Linked DNA regions of Homo sapiens: region 1 is linked to region 2. The links come from fine-mapping of genetic effects on gene expression. A gene starts in region 2. The other region holds a variant in brackets. All regions are shown on one strand. Distances are from middle to middle. Region 1 overlaps ZFP64 (ZFP64 zinc finger protein). Region 2 holds the start of ZFP64 (ZFP64 zinc finger protein).

Region 1 (8,340 bases), 45 kb after region 2:
GGCGCTATCTTGGCTCACTGCAACGTCCGCCTCCCAGGTTCAAGCGATTCTCATGCCTCAGCCCTCCGAGTAGCTGGGACCACAGGTGTACGACATCATGACTGGCTAATTTTTGTATATTTAGTAGAGACGGGGTTTCATCATGTTGAACTCCTGACCTCAAGTGATCTGCCCACCTCAGCCTCCCAAAGTGCTGGGATTACAGGTGTGAGCCACCATGCCTGGCCGTGGTTTGCTCTTAATGTTTTTAAGGATGGTTGTGAATCCCCCTGGCCCCATAATAAATTGTAATTTTATACTGCTTACTATAATTTTTTTAACACTGTAACAACTTTGAGACCACCTCTGAATCGTCGCATTATAACTGTTGTAGAATCTTAAATGTTACCAAGATGATTCCAATGAGGGGTTGGAATTAAATGCATTAAGTAGTGAATTCATGTGTTTGTTTCCAACTTGATTTTCCAACTCTAATAAAGGTTTCTGTCCATCTTATTACATTTGTGTAGTAAATGGTACTTCCCAGCCTCTCTTTTGCCCCATTCTGGAATACTCCCCAGAGTTTGGGGGTGTTCATGTTTTATACATGTAAGTCTGTTGGCATGAAGGACCATTTTCTACATAATATGACATGGATACTTGACCCAAAAAAAAATGTTTAGTGCTAATGAGCAGAAAATGAATGGTTCCATAATAAATTGATATCTGATTAAAATATACTGAATGTTAATGATTCTTTAGAGCCAAGGTGGGATTTGGGAATGATGGGGCGTGAGTCATTAATCAAAAACAAACTGAAGCAGCAAAGGTTTTTAGTCCTTTCATAAACGTCACACAATCATCTTACCTCCTCCACAGTCACATTAAATAGATGTGGTACCTAAAGTGATAAAGTGATCCATCCCACTGTTGTTTTCATTTTGAAACTTCAGACTGACAATCCTGGCATTTCTGTTTAGACACAAAAATGATCAAAGTTCCTACTAACAAGACAGAATTTTCTAGAATACCATTTTTGAGATGTTAATATCTGTGCAGAATCCAGATGAGTGGACTGAGAGAGTACCTAGATTTTTTCCAAAGCATAGGTTGTATTGAGAAGAGGAAAATTCAGATTGTGTTGTTTTACATTGAAATGCTGTTTGATCAGTAGGTGGTGCCAGAGAGCAAGCTAGAATCATCCATATTTGTACCTTAAGCCATTCTGTAAGGTTGTAATAGCACTCATTTCTGCTGTCAGCAAGGATTGGTGAGGAGGGGAGGTTACTCTTGGGACAGAAGCATATTTAGAATATTATGAGAATACTTAGATACATTTCTACCACTTTTATTCTTCTTTCTTTGATCTGTAATAGTTGGACACAATTTTGATGACTTGCTATATTTGCCATAATTTCTTTATTTTCCTATCATCAATGATAATAGTGAGTTATTAACTATGTTTTTGGTAAGAAACAGAAAAGGCTTGCAGTGTACAATGTTAGTGATTTAAATAATTTTGTCACTTTAAACTTATTGCTTACAGCCCTTTAGAAAAACTGTTCTGCTTTTGAATTTCAGCTGGGAAACTTCCATTGTCATGGTCCTATTTCCTATGTCTTTCTCTTTTCCCACTTTTTTCAACCATAAAGGATTTTTTCCTGATTATAATGTGTATTCAAGATAGAAAATATGAAAAACAGAATATTACTAGGAAAAAAATAGAAGTTACTAATAATCTTACTGTCCAGATATAAACTATACAGATTGTAACCATTTTGATGGACTTCCTATCAGTCTTTTTTTTTTTTTTGAGGTGGAGTCTCACTCTGTTGCCCAGGCTGGAGTGCAGTGGCGCAATCTCAGCTCACTACAAGCTCCGCCTCCCGGGTTCACACCATTCTCCTGCCTCAGCCTCCTGAGTAGCTGGGACTCTAGGCACCCGCAACCAAGTCCGGCTAATTTTTTGTATTTTTAGTAGAGACAGGGTTTCACCGTAGCCAGGATGGTCTCGATCTCCTGACCTTGTGATCCACCCACCTCGGTCTCCCAAAGTGCTGGGATTACAGGTGTGAGCCACCGTACCTGGCCCCTATCAATCTTTTTTTATGCTTACGTATATATGTTTTCTACTCCAGTTATGAAGTTGTAGTTTAATTAAGCATAATATTTTTTATATTCTATATTTCCTTTTGTATCCTTAGATCTCTACCTACCAGCTGCCTTCCATATATAATACATACACATACATACATACATACACATGCATGCATAGAGATGTACACACATGCATATTTGATTTGTTGGTTGTTTTGTCTTTTTACAAACAAAACAGTAAAACTTACTCTTTGGAATAAATTATACACAGAATTGTACAAACACCAAGCCAACAACTTCCAGCCCCTCCGTATTCTCACCCCACCCAAGGTAAGTAATGTTAGGTGCTCTGTGTTCTTACCAATATACGTAGACTCAAAAGATAACATAGAAAAGGTTTTTCCTAGTTCTATAGTAATTGTATCATACTCTGTACATTTCTCTGCAACTTGCTTTGATTATTCCATTTATTGACAGTCCTGTGGGTCAACAAAACTAGACCTAGTTTTTTTAAATAAGTGTTAGAGACATGCCAGGCTTTAGTCCGTCATCTTGCTATTATGATTCTTCAGGTTGTTTGGGGAATATTTTTGCCATTACGACTGCCCCAGTAAACTCTCATATTCAGCTTTTTTTTTTTTTTTTTCTGTAAGTAGATTCAAAAGTGTAAGTTTCACGGAGTTTCCATAGTTTGTACTTGCATAAATACGGATTAATTTTCACAATGATAGTCTCATCCCTGATGTGAGCTCAACTACCTTTGGAAGTTTTATCACTCTGCTGCGTGAAAATGGTTATCTGGCCTTTGTGCACTCCCCTAGCTGGTGCTGTGGTCTGCGTTTTCTGAGACGTCTCTGCATAGGGCTGGTTGACCATGTGTGCTTCTCTCTTCTATGAACTTAGAACTCTTACTCCCTCCTTTTGGTTGTTGGGAAGTTGGGGACATTAACCCGACATCAGTCACACATTGCTGAGTTTCTTCCCCTCCTGTCATTGTCTTTTGACTTTACCTGTGGGGCTGTCACCATATAAAAATGACTGTCTTTTTCTGTAGTTAGATTCTTCTGTCGCTTCATTTGTGGCACGTGTGTTTTCTAAGAACGTCCATCCTTCCCCTGAGATTAAACTGGTTTTCCCTTTAGTGTTTTTACTGCTTGCTTATTTGTTTTTCAATGGCTCCTTGCTGCAGCCAGAATTCTTTTTTTTTTTTTTT[TC/C]TTGTTTTGAGACAGAGTCTGGCTGTCGCCCAGCCTGGAGTGCCGTGGCGCGATCTCAGCTCACTACCTGCTCTGCCTCCCAGGCTCAGGTGATTCTCCTGCCTCAGCCTCCCACGTAGCTGGGATCACAGGCGTGTGCCACCACACCTGGCTAATTTTTGTATTTTTAGTAGAGACGAGATTTCGCCATGTTGGCCATGCTCGTCTTAAACTCCTGGCCTCCAGTGATCTGCCCACCTCGGCCTTTCAGAGTGCTGGGATTACAGCTCATGCCAAGAACTCATATTTATATGTTATGATGAACAGGTTTGACTGTCCACTTATGCCAGGACCATTTGTTAAATATTATTTTCCTGAAAACTGAAATCCTAATTTAAGCCATCGTGTAGATAAAGTTCACAAATATACTTCCAGAACTTCTTTATTCTGGAAGATTATAGATCTGAGATTCCCAAAGAAGATCTGGCTGGCCAACATGACATATTTGATTATACTAGCATTAAGGTAAGCTTAATCTTTTAGACTTACAAAGCTTCCCCCAGCTATTATTTTCCAAAATGTTCTTAGCAATTCTTAGATATTTATTCTTCCAAAGGAACTGTTATTTTATCCAGTACCTAAACCACCCCCACCAAAAAAGAAAACCTTTTGGAGATTTTTATTGAAATTGCATCAGTATTTTATATGAACTTATCAAAAGCACAACTATGAAAATATTAAGTCTTCCACCCAATTTTGGCTCACTGCAGCCTCCACCTCCTGGGTTCAAGAGATTCTCCCACTTCAGCCTCTTGAGTAGCTGGGATTACAGGCGCCTGCCACCATGCCTGGCTAATTTTTTTGTGTGTATCTTTAGTAGAGATGGGGTTTCGCCATGTGGACCAGGCTGGTCTTGCACTCCTGGCCTCAAGTGATCCGCCTGCCTCGGCCTCCCAAAGTGCTGGGATTACAGGTGTGAGCCACGGTGCCCGGTCCTGTGTTTTCTTATTATTCCATAATTTTATCATAATTGTGAATAGGAATTTTTGCATTTGTTGCAAACATCAAGAAAAGCCAAAATAGGGTATATTTGTCTATATTAAAGAAAAATTCTCAGTAATGAATGGTATTTATTAGAAATTCTTGGTCTCTGATAAATATGATTTATAATTATCTGATATAGTCTTTTATTTTCAGATTGTTTCATCTCTTCCTTTAGAATATTTTTACTACTTATTTTGTTTTCTTGTCCTGTTGCTTTAGCCAGAACCTCCAAACAATGCTGATACAGCTGGCATCCTTGCTGTGTCCCTAATTCTAACTTCAGAATTTTCCAATGTAATATACACCACTCCTTTGGATAATGGTTTTTATGGTACTTAGGTCATTTTCTTCCACTCCAGTTTTCACTTAGAGTGAAATTGCTTGAACCCAGGAGGTGGAGGCTGCAGTGAGCCAAAATTGCGCCACTGCACTCCAGCCTGGGTGACAGAGTGCAACTCCATCTCAAAAAAAAAGAAACACAGACCTTATATAATGAAAATAGACTACATAATTTGACTGAATAATGTTTACAATGGAGTTAAATAAGGGTTTTTGAGTGGAAGACTTAATATTTTCATAGTCATTCTTTTGATAAGTTCATATAAAATACTGATGCAGTTTTACTTATCAGGGTAGCTTGCTGAATTTTATCAAATATCTTCTTAAAATTGTTAGCCGTAAGTATTTGGGTTTTGCACTTAAATATGTTGACACAGTGAATTTGTGTAGCATATAGCCTGGTATGTTAAGTCACCTTGCATTCCTGGAAGAAATCCTCTTGGTCATGTTGAATTATTCTTCCAAAACACTGCTGGATTTCGTTTTCTAATATCTTATCTGGAAGTTTTGCAACTCTAGTTCATGTGCTACATAAGAGCATTTTGGTCAACAACAGACTGCATGTTACAATGGTGATCTCATAAGAATAATGGAGCTGAAACATTTCTTTTTTTTATTATACTTTAAGTTTTAGGGTACATGTGCACAATGTGCAGGTTAGTTACATATGTATACACGTGCCATGCTGGTGTGCTGCGCCCATTAACTCGTCATTTAGCATTAGGTATATCTCCTAATGCTATCCCTCTCCCCTCCCCCCACCCCACAACAGTCCCCAGAGTGTGATGTTCCCCTTCCTGTGTCCATGTGTTCTCATTGTTCAATTCCCACCTATGAGTGAGAACATGCGGTGTTTGGTTTTTTGTCCTTGCGATAGTTTACTGAGAATGATGATTTCCAATTTCATCCATGTCCCTACAAAGGACATGAACTCATCATTTTTTATGGCTGCATAGTATTCCATGGTGTATATGTGCCACATTTTCTTAATCCAGTCTATCATTGTTGGACATTTGGATTGGTTCCAAGTCTTTGCTATTATGAATAGTGCCGCAATAAACATATGTGTGCATGTGTCTTTATAGCAGCATGATTTATAGCCCTTTGGGTATATACCCAGCATGGGATGGCTGGGTCAAATGGTATTTCTAGTTCTAGATCTCTGAGGAGCTGAAACATTTCTATTGCCTACTGATATCTTGATGATCCTGACCCTGCATAGGCTGAGGCTAATGCGCATGTTTGTGTCTTAGTTTGTTTTTTTTTTAAGTTGAAAAAGTAAAAGAAAAAAATAAAATAGAAAAGGCTTATAGAATAAGGATATAAAGAAAGAATATTTTTGTACAGTTGTACAATGCTTGTGTTTTAAGCTGAGTGTTATTACAAAAGATTTTGATAAGTCAAAATATAATTAATACATGTATAAAGTAAAACAGTTACAATAAGCTATACTTAATTTACTACTGAAGAAAGACTTTTTTAATAAATTTAGAGTAGTCTAAGTGTACAGTGTTTATAAGGTCTGCAGTAGTACACAGTCATGACCTAGGCCTTCACATTCACTCACCACTCACCCACTGACTCACCCAGAGCAACTTCCAGTCCTGCAAGCTCCATTCATGATAAGTGTCCTAAACAGGTGCACCATATTTTTATCTTTTATACCATACTTTTACTGTACTTTTGTTTTGTTTTGTTTTGTTTTTGAGAAAGGGTATTACTCTATCACCCAGGTTGGAGTGCAGTGGCACAATCACAGCTCACTGCAGCCTCTACCTCCCCAGGCTCAGGTGATCCTCCCACCTCAGCCTCCCAAGTAGCTGGGACCACAGGCATGTACCACCACATATTTTTTGTAGAGATGGGGTGTTGCCATTCTGCCCAGGCTGGTCTCAAACTCCTGGGCTCAAGTGATCCACCCACCTAAGCCTCCCAAAGTGCTGGGATTACAGGCATGAGCCACCACGCCTGGGCTACAGTACCTTTTCTATGTTTAGTTATATTTAGATAGACAAGTACTTACCATTGTGTTACCATTACCTATAGTACTCAGCACATTCACGTGCTGTATGGATTTCTAGCCTAAGAGCCATAGGCTACGCCCTATTTCTCAGAATGGATCCCTGTTGATAAGTGGCAACGACTGTATACACATACATGCAGCTGGTCTCTAGTTTTCTTTTTTAGTGCTATCTCTGATTTTTGCTTGTTTCTTATGCAACTCTAAAAATAAATTGGAGCTTGTGCAACTCTAAAAATAAGCTGGAGCTCTTTTCTTCTTTTTCGGTGACCTGAAATAGTTTGACTATCTCAGAAATTATCTGTTCTGTTATCTTGGCTGATACTCTTTTTCACTGTAACATTCTTAACAAATTTCCCAATTATTTTCTGTAATTACTGATCTGTTCAGGTTGTATACCTTATCTGGATCAATTTTAGTAGTTTATATTTAGCAAAAGAAAAAACATCATTTACTCTGCTCTAAATTTTCAATTACGTGGCCCTATGATTCCATTTAACTTTCTTTTTAAAATATTTTAATATCTTTAGCATTTGGGGGTCCACCACCTTTCTTGTTACTACTGGTTTTGGGGTTTCTTTTTTTATTGTTGTATTTTTAGTCTTCTACTTAGTATGCTAAGGGTTTACTTATTTAGTCATTTGTATTAAAGTAAAAGTAGCACTTTTGCTTTTATTTATTTCTCTACCCCTCCTCCATTTCATTCATTTCAGCTTTCAGCATTTTTTTTTTTTTTTTTTTTTTTTGAGACGGAGTCTCGCTCTGTCACCAGGCTGGAGTGCAGTGGCGCGATCTCGGCTCACTGCAACCTCCACCTCTCGAATTCAAGCGATTCTCCTGCCTCAGCCTCCCGAATAGCTGGGACTACAGGTGCACGCTACCACACCCAGCTAATTTTTTTGTATATTTTGTAGAGACGGGGTTTCACCATGTTGACCAGGATAGTCTTGATCTCTTGACCTCGTGATCTGCCCGCCTTGGCCTCCCAAAGTGCTGGGATTGTAGGTGTGAGCCACCATGCCTGGCCTCAGCTTTTATTTTAATACTTCTTTCCCCTGCTTTTCTTTCATTTTATTTTGTTATTCTAATTTCATGTATTAAGTTCACTTAGTCTTTAGTAATAAAAACATTTAAAGCTATATATTTTCCATTATGCCTTCACCTGTGTTAAAAGATAATTTTTTAAGTTAAAATCATGACTGTCCTACAAATATAAGATTAACACGTCAAGTATTTAATTCATTAATTAAAGGGGGAATCAGCAAACTATCACAACAGGCTCAAAGGAGGATTAACAAATGCATGATTACATAGGCAATCAGGAATGCTGAAATAAATTCACCAACAGATCCAAAACTGGTCAGTATCTCCAGAGTAGTAATTAGCTGTGTTCCATCAAACGAAATCTGTTTGCAGTCCTGTGGATGAGTTATTTGCAACACTATCTATTTCTGTAACTTGCAAAGTTATAAAATGGCCAGGCATGGTGGTTCACGCCTATAATCTCAGCACTTTGGGAGGCCAAGGCAAAAGGATCACATGAGCCCAAGGATTCCAGACCAGCTTGAGCAGCATAGGGGAGACCCTGTCTCTACAAATACTATTAATAATAAAAAAAAAAATTGGCCGGGTGTGGTGGTGTGCACCTGTAGCCCCAACTACTCTAGA
Region 2 (8,340 bases):
TATCGCCTCATTCTCATAGTCCAAAATGGCAGCTGGAGCTCCAGCCATCATATCCTCATCCCAAGCAAGGAAAAGAGGAAGAGCTAAAGAAGAAGGGACAAACAGCATATGCCAACTGCTATTTTAGGATATTTCCCAGAAGCTGCATCACATTTCATTTACGTTGTCAGAATTTAGTCATATAGCCATGCGTAGCTACAAAGGAAGCTGGGAAAAGTCTCTTTTCAGGAGGCCATGTGCTGAGCTATAAATTAGGAATTGTATTATTAAAAAAATTTGAGGCCAGGCATGGTGGCTCACACCTGTAATCCCAGCACTTTAGGAGGCCGAGGCGGGCGGATCACAAGGTCAGGTGTTCGAGACCAGCCTGGCCAACATAACAAACCCTGTCTCTAATAGAAATACAAACATTGGCTGAGAGTGGTGGCTCACGCCTGTAATCTCAGCACTTTGGGAGGCTGAGGCAGGCGGATCACTTGAGGTCAGGAGTTCAAGACCAGCCTAGGCAACATGGTGAAACCCCAACTCTACTAAAAACAAAAAACAGGCTGGTGGCAGGCACCTGTAATCCTAGCTGAGGCAGAAGAATCTCATGAACCCAGGAGGTAGAGGTTGCAGTGAGCTGAGATTGAACCACTGCACTCCAGCCTGGGTGACAGAGTGAGACTTCATCTCAAGAAAAAAAAGAAAGAAGTATAATATTAATGTTATGAGTACATATTGGTTTGAACCATATAAAATTACCATTTTTAAGTAAAAAATAAATATATCAGCAATTCATATGGTTCATTCTATTACATTTCTACAGAAAAAAAGCCTATAAAGATATAGACATGTAGTACATAAAGATATAAGTATATATCTCTGGTTGGTGAGATCTCAGATAGCCATGTATATTTCATGTGGAGGTGAAAAACATGTAAGCTGTAATTACATTTTTATAAAATATATGAATATGATTTATATGTGTGTGTATGCACACATACAACACACACACAAAAATTCATCAATCAAAATGTTATTTCTGCATAGTGAATTATAAGTGGGTTTTATTTTCTTATGTTTTCCTGTATTTTTTTTTCAAATTCTAACCAACAATTTCTAATACTTTTGCAATAAGAAAAACAAGTATAGGGCAAGTGCAGTGGTTCACACCTGTAATTCCAGCACTTTGGGAGGCCAAGGTAGGCAGATCCCTTGAGGCCAGGAGTTTGAGACCAGCCTGGCCAACATGATGAAACCCCGTCTCTACCAAAAATACAAAGAAATTAGCTGGGCGTGGTGGCACACACCGGTAATCCCAGCTACTCAGGAGGCTGAGGTGGGAGGATCGCTTGAACCTGGGAAGTGGAGGTTGCAGTGAGCCAAGATCGCACCACTGCACTCCAGCCTGGGTGACAGAGCGAGACTCTGTCTCTAAATAAATAAATAAGAGTGTGTTGATCTTGATGGAGCTTATGTTGAAAAATAACATTTTTTAAAAGTATAGAAAGAAAAATAAGAAATGAAAATAGGACATTTTCAGACCAGAAAAAGACTGTTGCAGTGGTCAAGATGTGTAATAGAGAAGGTTGGCTGGACATAGTAGCAAAAGGTTAAAATGGAGCTCATGGAAACATGCATGAAATCATTTCACAATAAAAAATGAACTGAGGATGCCTGTGTGCCAGGCTCTGTTCTAGGCCCCAGAGGATACAGGTAAATAAAATAGGCCAGGTCTATGCCCTCCTGGAGCTTACATGGTAGGGAGACAGATAATAACCAAAAATAATTAAAAGATAATAATAGCTAGGATTTATGCCGAGTTATATGAGTCAGGCACTATTCTAAGCACTTTACAGATATTGATTGGTTCCTCCTACAAAACAGCTTAATGAACTAGGTGCTACTATTATCTCCAAGCTACAGAAAACCGGGACACAGAGCAGTTGAATTTCCTATTCAAGGTTAAGCAACTAATCCTAGTTCAGCAACTCCAGGATTTGCATGGCAGTGGCATAGCCTAACTCCAGGGCCTACACACTTAACCACCAAACCAGTAAGGCCCAGACTTACATCATGATAAGAATTACCTGGGGCACTTTTGAGATATTTGCAGATTACCAAGTCTTACCCCAGAAAATTCTGATGCAGTAAGCATAGCTTGGAACCCAAGAACTCATTCTTTAGTGAGCCTTCCAGATGATGCTTCTCTTCAGGCAAATGTGAGATATATTGCTCTCAACAAAAGGAATCGTGACAATAAAAGTTAGAATGGTGACCTCTGCAAGATTGGATAGTAGGAATAGTATTATTTTATTTATTTATAGTTTTTTGAGACAGTCTCGCTCCATCACCCAGGCTGGAGTGCAGTGGCTCCATCTCAGCTCATTGCAACCTCCGCCTCCTGGGTTCAAACAATTTTCCTGCTTCAGCCTCTGGAGTATCTGGGATTACAGGTGTGCGCCACCAAGCCTGGCTAATTTTTGTACTGAAGAAAATGGGGTTTCACTATATTGGCCAGGCTGGTCTAGAACTCCTGACCTCAGGTGATCCGCCCACCTCGGCCTCCCAAAGTGCTGGGATTACAGACATGAACCACCTTGCCTGGCCAGAATAGTATTATTGGCTGGGAAGGTGCATGAGGGAGCCGACCAGGGCTGGAAATGTGTGTCTTGGAAGGGGACTTCCCAGGTGTGCACATATGTAAACATTCATCAAGCAATAAAAAATAAATATTGCCGTAAGCTGCGGTGCTCTGCTGGGTCATGTTAGCTAGACAGGTATCATGAAGGTGATGTCGCAGAGTCGCAGGGAGAGTGAATACTTTAGGTAAGACATAGGAAAGGTCTCTCTGGGAAGGCGACATTTCATTTGATGCTGGATGACCTAAAATAGCCAGTCCTGCAAAGACCAGGAAAGCAATCCAGGCAGAGGGAGGAGCAACAACAGCAAGGAGCCTGGTGGAGCTGCCTGGGCAATGCAGGGTGAGAGTGGTGTGATCTGCAGTGGGACTGGCAGGCCACAGCCAGTTACATCTAGCTCATTCCTGCCCCAGGGTTTTTGCTCCCACCAGTTCCTCAGGCTGGAATTGCTCCCCCCTCATCCTCACATGGCTGCATCCTCCCCGGCTCCTTGTTCAGATATTACCTGCTCGGAAAGGCCTGCTATGACCAGTTCTACAGCCACTATTACAGCCCCATTTTATGGTCTTTGGAGCCCTTATCACTAGCAAAATGTTGAGAACACATGGACACAGGAGGGGAACATCACACACCAGGGCCTGTCAGGGGGTGGGGGGCAACGGGAGGGAGAGCATTAGGACAAATGCCTAATGCATGTGGGGCTTAAAACCTAGGTGATGGGTTGATAGGTGCAGCAAACCACCATGGCACATGTATACTTATGTAACAAACCTGCACGTTCTGCACATGTATCCCAGAACTTAAGGTTAAAAAAAAAAAAGGAAGTTTTATATATATTTTTTATATATATAAATATATAATATATAATATATAATATTTTATATATAATATATATTGTATATATTTATATATAATATATATATACATAAATATAAATATATATTAAATATATTAAATATTATATATTAAATATATATATATTTACAGTACTGATTTGATTATTTCATGTTGACTGCCTCCCTGGTCTACCTCCAGCAGCTAGCCCAGTGCCTGGCACTTCACAAACACTTGAGAATAAACAGCTGCTGCAGGCAGAAACCAAGCCTTAGAGGCAGCAGCAGGGAAAATCCCATTCATTATACAAGCCATATTTACTAAGCCTACTATGTGTCAGGCACCAGCCAAGTCACTGGACTACATCAGTGAAGCAAAGAGATTTTTTTAATCCCCATTTTTACAGGGACTTACTGAAAATAAGGGGGAGGAGAACACAGATAATATACAACTAAATTATATCTAAGCAGATATACTCGAGATACATAATATGTTCCATCTAACACCTTTTAAGGACAAAGCAGGCCAGGCATGGTGGCTTACACCTGTAACCCCAGCACTTTGGGAGGCTGATGGAGGATCGCTTGAGGCCAGGAATTCGAGACCAGCCTGGGCAACATCTCTACAAAAATAAAAATTAAAAAGTGAGCCAGGGTGGTGGCCCACGCCTGTAGGGGGGATTGCTTGAGCCCAGGAGTTGGAGGCTGCAATGAGCTAGGATCCGACCACTCTTCCAGCCTGAGAGACAGAGAAAGACCCCCTCTCTAAAAAAAGAAAGGGAGAAAGAGAGAGAGGCAGAGAGAGAGAAAGAAAGAAAAGAAAAGAAAAGAAAAGAAAAGAAAAGAAAAGAAAAGAAAAGAAAAGAAAAGAAAAGAAAAAGAAAAAGAAAAAAACAGGAAGGAGACAGGGAGTGGTTGGGGGAGGAGGAGGGGGCTGCAATATTAGAATGATTAGATTAGGCCAAGCATGGCCTCCCTGAGTGTGAATTTGAATGCTGACCTTCAGAAGCAGGACAGACTCTATGGGCAAATCCCTCGAGGCTGGGAGAGGTCTGAGGCTTGGGAGGGTCGGCAGAGAGACAATAGGGCTGACGCAGGAGCCCGGGGGAGACAGTAGTAGTAAGACATGAGGGACAGAGCAGAGAGGTCACTGTCCTCAGAGTGTGGACGCCGACCAACACTAGGGGCATCACCTGGGAACTTAGAAATGCTCGTTCTCACGCCTCGCCCCAGACCTACTGAAGCAGAAACGCTAGGGTGGGCCCAACAGCGTGTGTTCTAACAAGCCTTTCAGGCGACTGCGATGCACGATAAAGTTGGCAGCTCCTGGAGCAGGGGTCCCTCCGCGCTACGACCCCACCTCTTCGCGGTCCTCTCAGTCTCCCTAGCGGGGCAAGGGACCCGCCCAGCGCTTTGCTGATTTGCCCAGCGCTCACGCCCAACCTGGGTTTCTCCGGAGCTCGCCGCGCCCCGCGCACCCACCCCGCAACGGCAGCCGCACGTGGGTCTCCCCGCAAACCACCCAGGCGTCCCGGGAGCAGCGCTGCTGCACGGCCGCGCTGGGGGCCCAACGCCTGGGGTTGCAGGTGCAAAAGGCGCCCCGAGCCGGGGAGGCCAATCGCGTCCGCGGAGAACGCAGAGTGCGGGCAGGGGCGCATCCCTCGCCACCCGCGGTCGCCCAGCACGCCGGGACGCGCGTGGCCATCCAGCTCCCCGGGGGCGTTGGGGGGCTCCGCGGGCCTGGGCCTCGGGATTCGCCCGCCGCTTCCCCGGGGAGCCGCTGCTGCAAAGCCAGGTTGGGGCGCCGGGCCCGGCCAGCGCCCTCTAGGCAGCGGAAGTGCAGCTTGCTTTACATCCGTCCTCCCCGCCTCGCAGAGTTGGGAGAAGGCAGGGTGGGGGGTGTGGAAAAATAAAAGGAAAAGTCCTTGCACCATGTAGATCAGCGTCCCCCACTTTGGCATCCCGGCCGGCCGGGGACCTCCCAGTCTGCGGCCATGAACGCGAGCAGCGAGGGCGAGAGCTTCGCGGGCTCGGTGCAAAGTAAGTGCTTTTCCGGGAGCAGTGCGCGCTCCGGGGCCCAGTGCGCGCTCCGGGGCCCGGGCCCAAGCACGTCTGCGACGCAGCCAGCAGGCCCGGGGCCCCGAAATCGGGGTGACGGCTCGGAGCCGCGTCTCGGGGACCGCGGCGGGCGCGCTGTGCAGGGGGCGCCGGAGTGGGCTTGGGGTGGGGGCGCACCCGACCTGGCGCAAGACCGGGGGCGCTCTCCAGCCTTGCGAGACCCCTTGGAAGGGAACAGTGGGGGAGGGCACGCCGTTCAGACAATCGCCACCCCCTAAGGGCATTCCCGCCCCATCAGGCGGAGTTTGGGGCGGGCAGGAGAAAGGGAGGAATCTAGGGTAAACGGGGCAACACTGATGGGAAAACTTCTGCCTCAGTGGCTCAAAATTAGAGCCTGGAGATTGGGGGAATCACCAGGTCTCACGAGGTCCTGCCGGCTCATTGCAAAGCCTTTTCCTCATTAAGGGTGGAGATCTGAATGGAAAACGGGGCCGTGGTCGCTTTATTTGGGTTTGGGGTTCAGTTTTTATTTAACCGAGGAGGACATCAGCGTTTTTCAAGTCCCTGGTTTCTCCCGGTGCATTGTTTCCCAAAGTGTGGTCCAGAGACTGAGTGCAACCAGCCACCTGGGAGCGAGAGCGTGTATTTTAAAACAGCTTTCTGGGCCCCACCCATTCAATCTCGGGGGTGGGGCTGGGGATCCGCTGTCCTTCGTAGCTGCCTGGGCAACTCTGAAGCACATGAAGTTTGAGAACCCATCTACCAGGGGTTTGCAGAAAATCTGGCACATAGTAAGCTCCCAGCTTGTTAGCTGCTACTGTTAACAGTTTGGGAGACACTGGGTCCCAAACTTGGCGGTGTATTCCTTGCATTACTGTGAAAAGCACAGATTTTCCTAAACACCATCCTCCCCACCCCACCCTGTTATGACTCAGTATCTCCTAGGTGGGGCTCAGATATGTCCATGTTTAAATAGTGTACCTCAGTAAGAACCCAGCAGGTAACATGCTGGGGGACTGGCGGGGAGGGGGGACTGTGCTGGTACGAGCACCATCCCATTTAATTCTCATAACAAGCCCGTGTTTTTTCTTGGAGAAATTAAAAACAAACAAAAACCATGGATTAGAAACCTCTCCTCCCATTTTTCAGATGAGAAAACCCACGCTTAAAGTCACTGTTGTTAAGCGACAGTGTCAAGATTCTAACGAAGGTCTATGTCGTTACTTTTGCACTTTCCACATACCAGTGACATTATCTGTTATGAAAATCCTTTCATTCTGGGTGTCAGTCCTATTCCATCATTAAGGAATCGTCAGCAATGCAAGCTACTTCATGTCTCACTTCCTTGTTTCCTTGTTAGTTCCATGGGTATCTCAGTATCTGCCAGAGAAGAAAAGGTTTCCTTCCTTCCATCCATTGATTGCAAAGTGCTTAAGTGTATCCCTGCAAGATGGCTTATCACAGTGCTCAGCCCAGTCTCCTTAGCAAGTCAACCAAACTGTATTTCTGAACAGAGATTTCTTGTCTTAGCTAGACCTGGGGAAAATTGGACATAATGTAAATATCTTACAAATTTTCAGAAAATTATGAGGCATAATTTTATCTAACCATATATGCACAAAGGTAGTCTTGTATCATTTAACTTGGGAAAAATTGGAAATTATGTAAATACCTTATTGTTGCTGAGAAGATTATGACGCATGGACACCATGGAATAATGTATTGCCATTAAATAATCATATATATATGAAGAGATTTTAATGATATAGCACAATGTTTATGCAATGTTTAGGAAAAAGGGCCAGGCACGGTGGCTCACGCCTGTAATCCTAGCACTTTGGGAGGCTGAGGCGGGCGGATCACATGAGGTCGGGAGTTCAAGACCAGCCTGACCAACATGAAGAAACCCCATTTCTACTAAAAATTCAAAATTAGCCTGGCGTGGTGGTGGCGCTTGTAATCCCAGATACTCCGGAGGCTGAGGCAGGAGAATCGCTTGAACCTAGGAGGCGGAGGTTGCAGTGAGCTGAGATCGTGCCCTTGCACTCCAGCCTGGGCAACAAGAGCAAAACTCCATCTCAAAAAAAAAAAGGAAAAAAATTAGGAAAAGGATTAGTTTTACAATACTATGATCTGAATATTTACAATATTATGATCTTATGCAATTTTTTTTTTTTTTGAGATGAAGTCTCGCTGTCACCAGGCTGGAAGTTCAGTGGCATGATCTTGGCTCACTGCAACCTCCACGTCCCAGGTTCAAGCAATTCTCCTGCCTCAGCCTTCTGAGTAGCTGGGATTACTGGCACGTGCCACCACACCCAGCTAATTTTTGTATTTTTAGTAGAGACGGGGTTTCACCATGTTCGCCAGGATAGTCTTGATCTCTTGTTGTGATCCACCCATCTCGGCTTCCCAAAGTGCTGGGTTACAGGCGTGAGCCATCTTACGCAACTTTTAAGTGTAAAGAAAATGAATGGAAAAAAATATTTTATAATATTCATGGTAGGCAGAGATGGAAATATTGAGTGATTTTCCCCTTCTTTATAAGTTTCTTCTAAATTTTCTTATAAACACGAGTTATCTTTTTTTTTTTATGTGAGACGGAGTCTCGCTCTGTCGCCCAGGCTGGAGTGCAGTGGCACAATCTCAGCTCACTGCAACCTGCGCCTTCCGGGTTCAAGCAATTCTCTTGCCTCAGCCTCTCTAGTAGCTGGGATTACAGGTGTGTGCCACCACGCCGGGCTAATTTTTTTTGTTTATTTTTAGTAGAGATGGGGTTTCACCATGTTAGCCAGGATGGTCTCGCTCTCCTGACCTCATGATCT

What was found.
Region 1: its variant is fine-mapped to the expression of ZFP64 in whole blood (INTERVAL, PIP above 0.99).

The regions. Positions count from the first base shown.
Region 1 is chr20:52,143,657-52,151,996 of GRCh38, reverse strand. ZFP64 (ZFP64 zinc finger protein) reads left to right here. Exons shown (of 6, transcript NM_018197.3): 6 at 1-719. Among named protein-coding and RNA genes, the nearest start is that of ZFP64, 44 kb to the left of the region's middle. The variant TC/C (reference allele first, on the strand shown) is at 3,290.
Region 2 is chr20:52,188,748-52,197,087 of GRCh38, reverse strand. ZFP64 (ZFP64 zinc finger protein) reads left to right here and starts at 5,309. Exons shown (of 6, transcript NM_018197.3): 1 at 5,309-5,497. The coding sequence starts at 5,452. RefSeq lists enhancers at 4,428-4,557, 5,598-6,454 and silencers at 4,968-5,237, 5,598-5,837.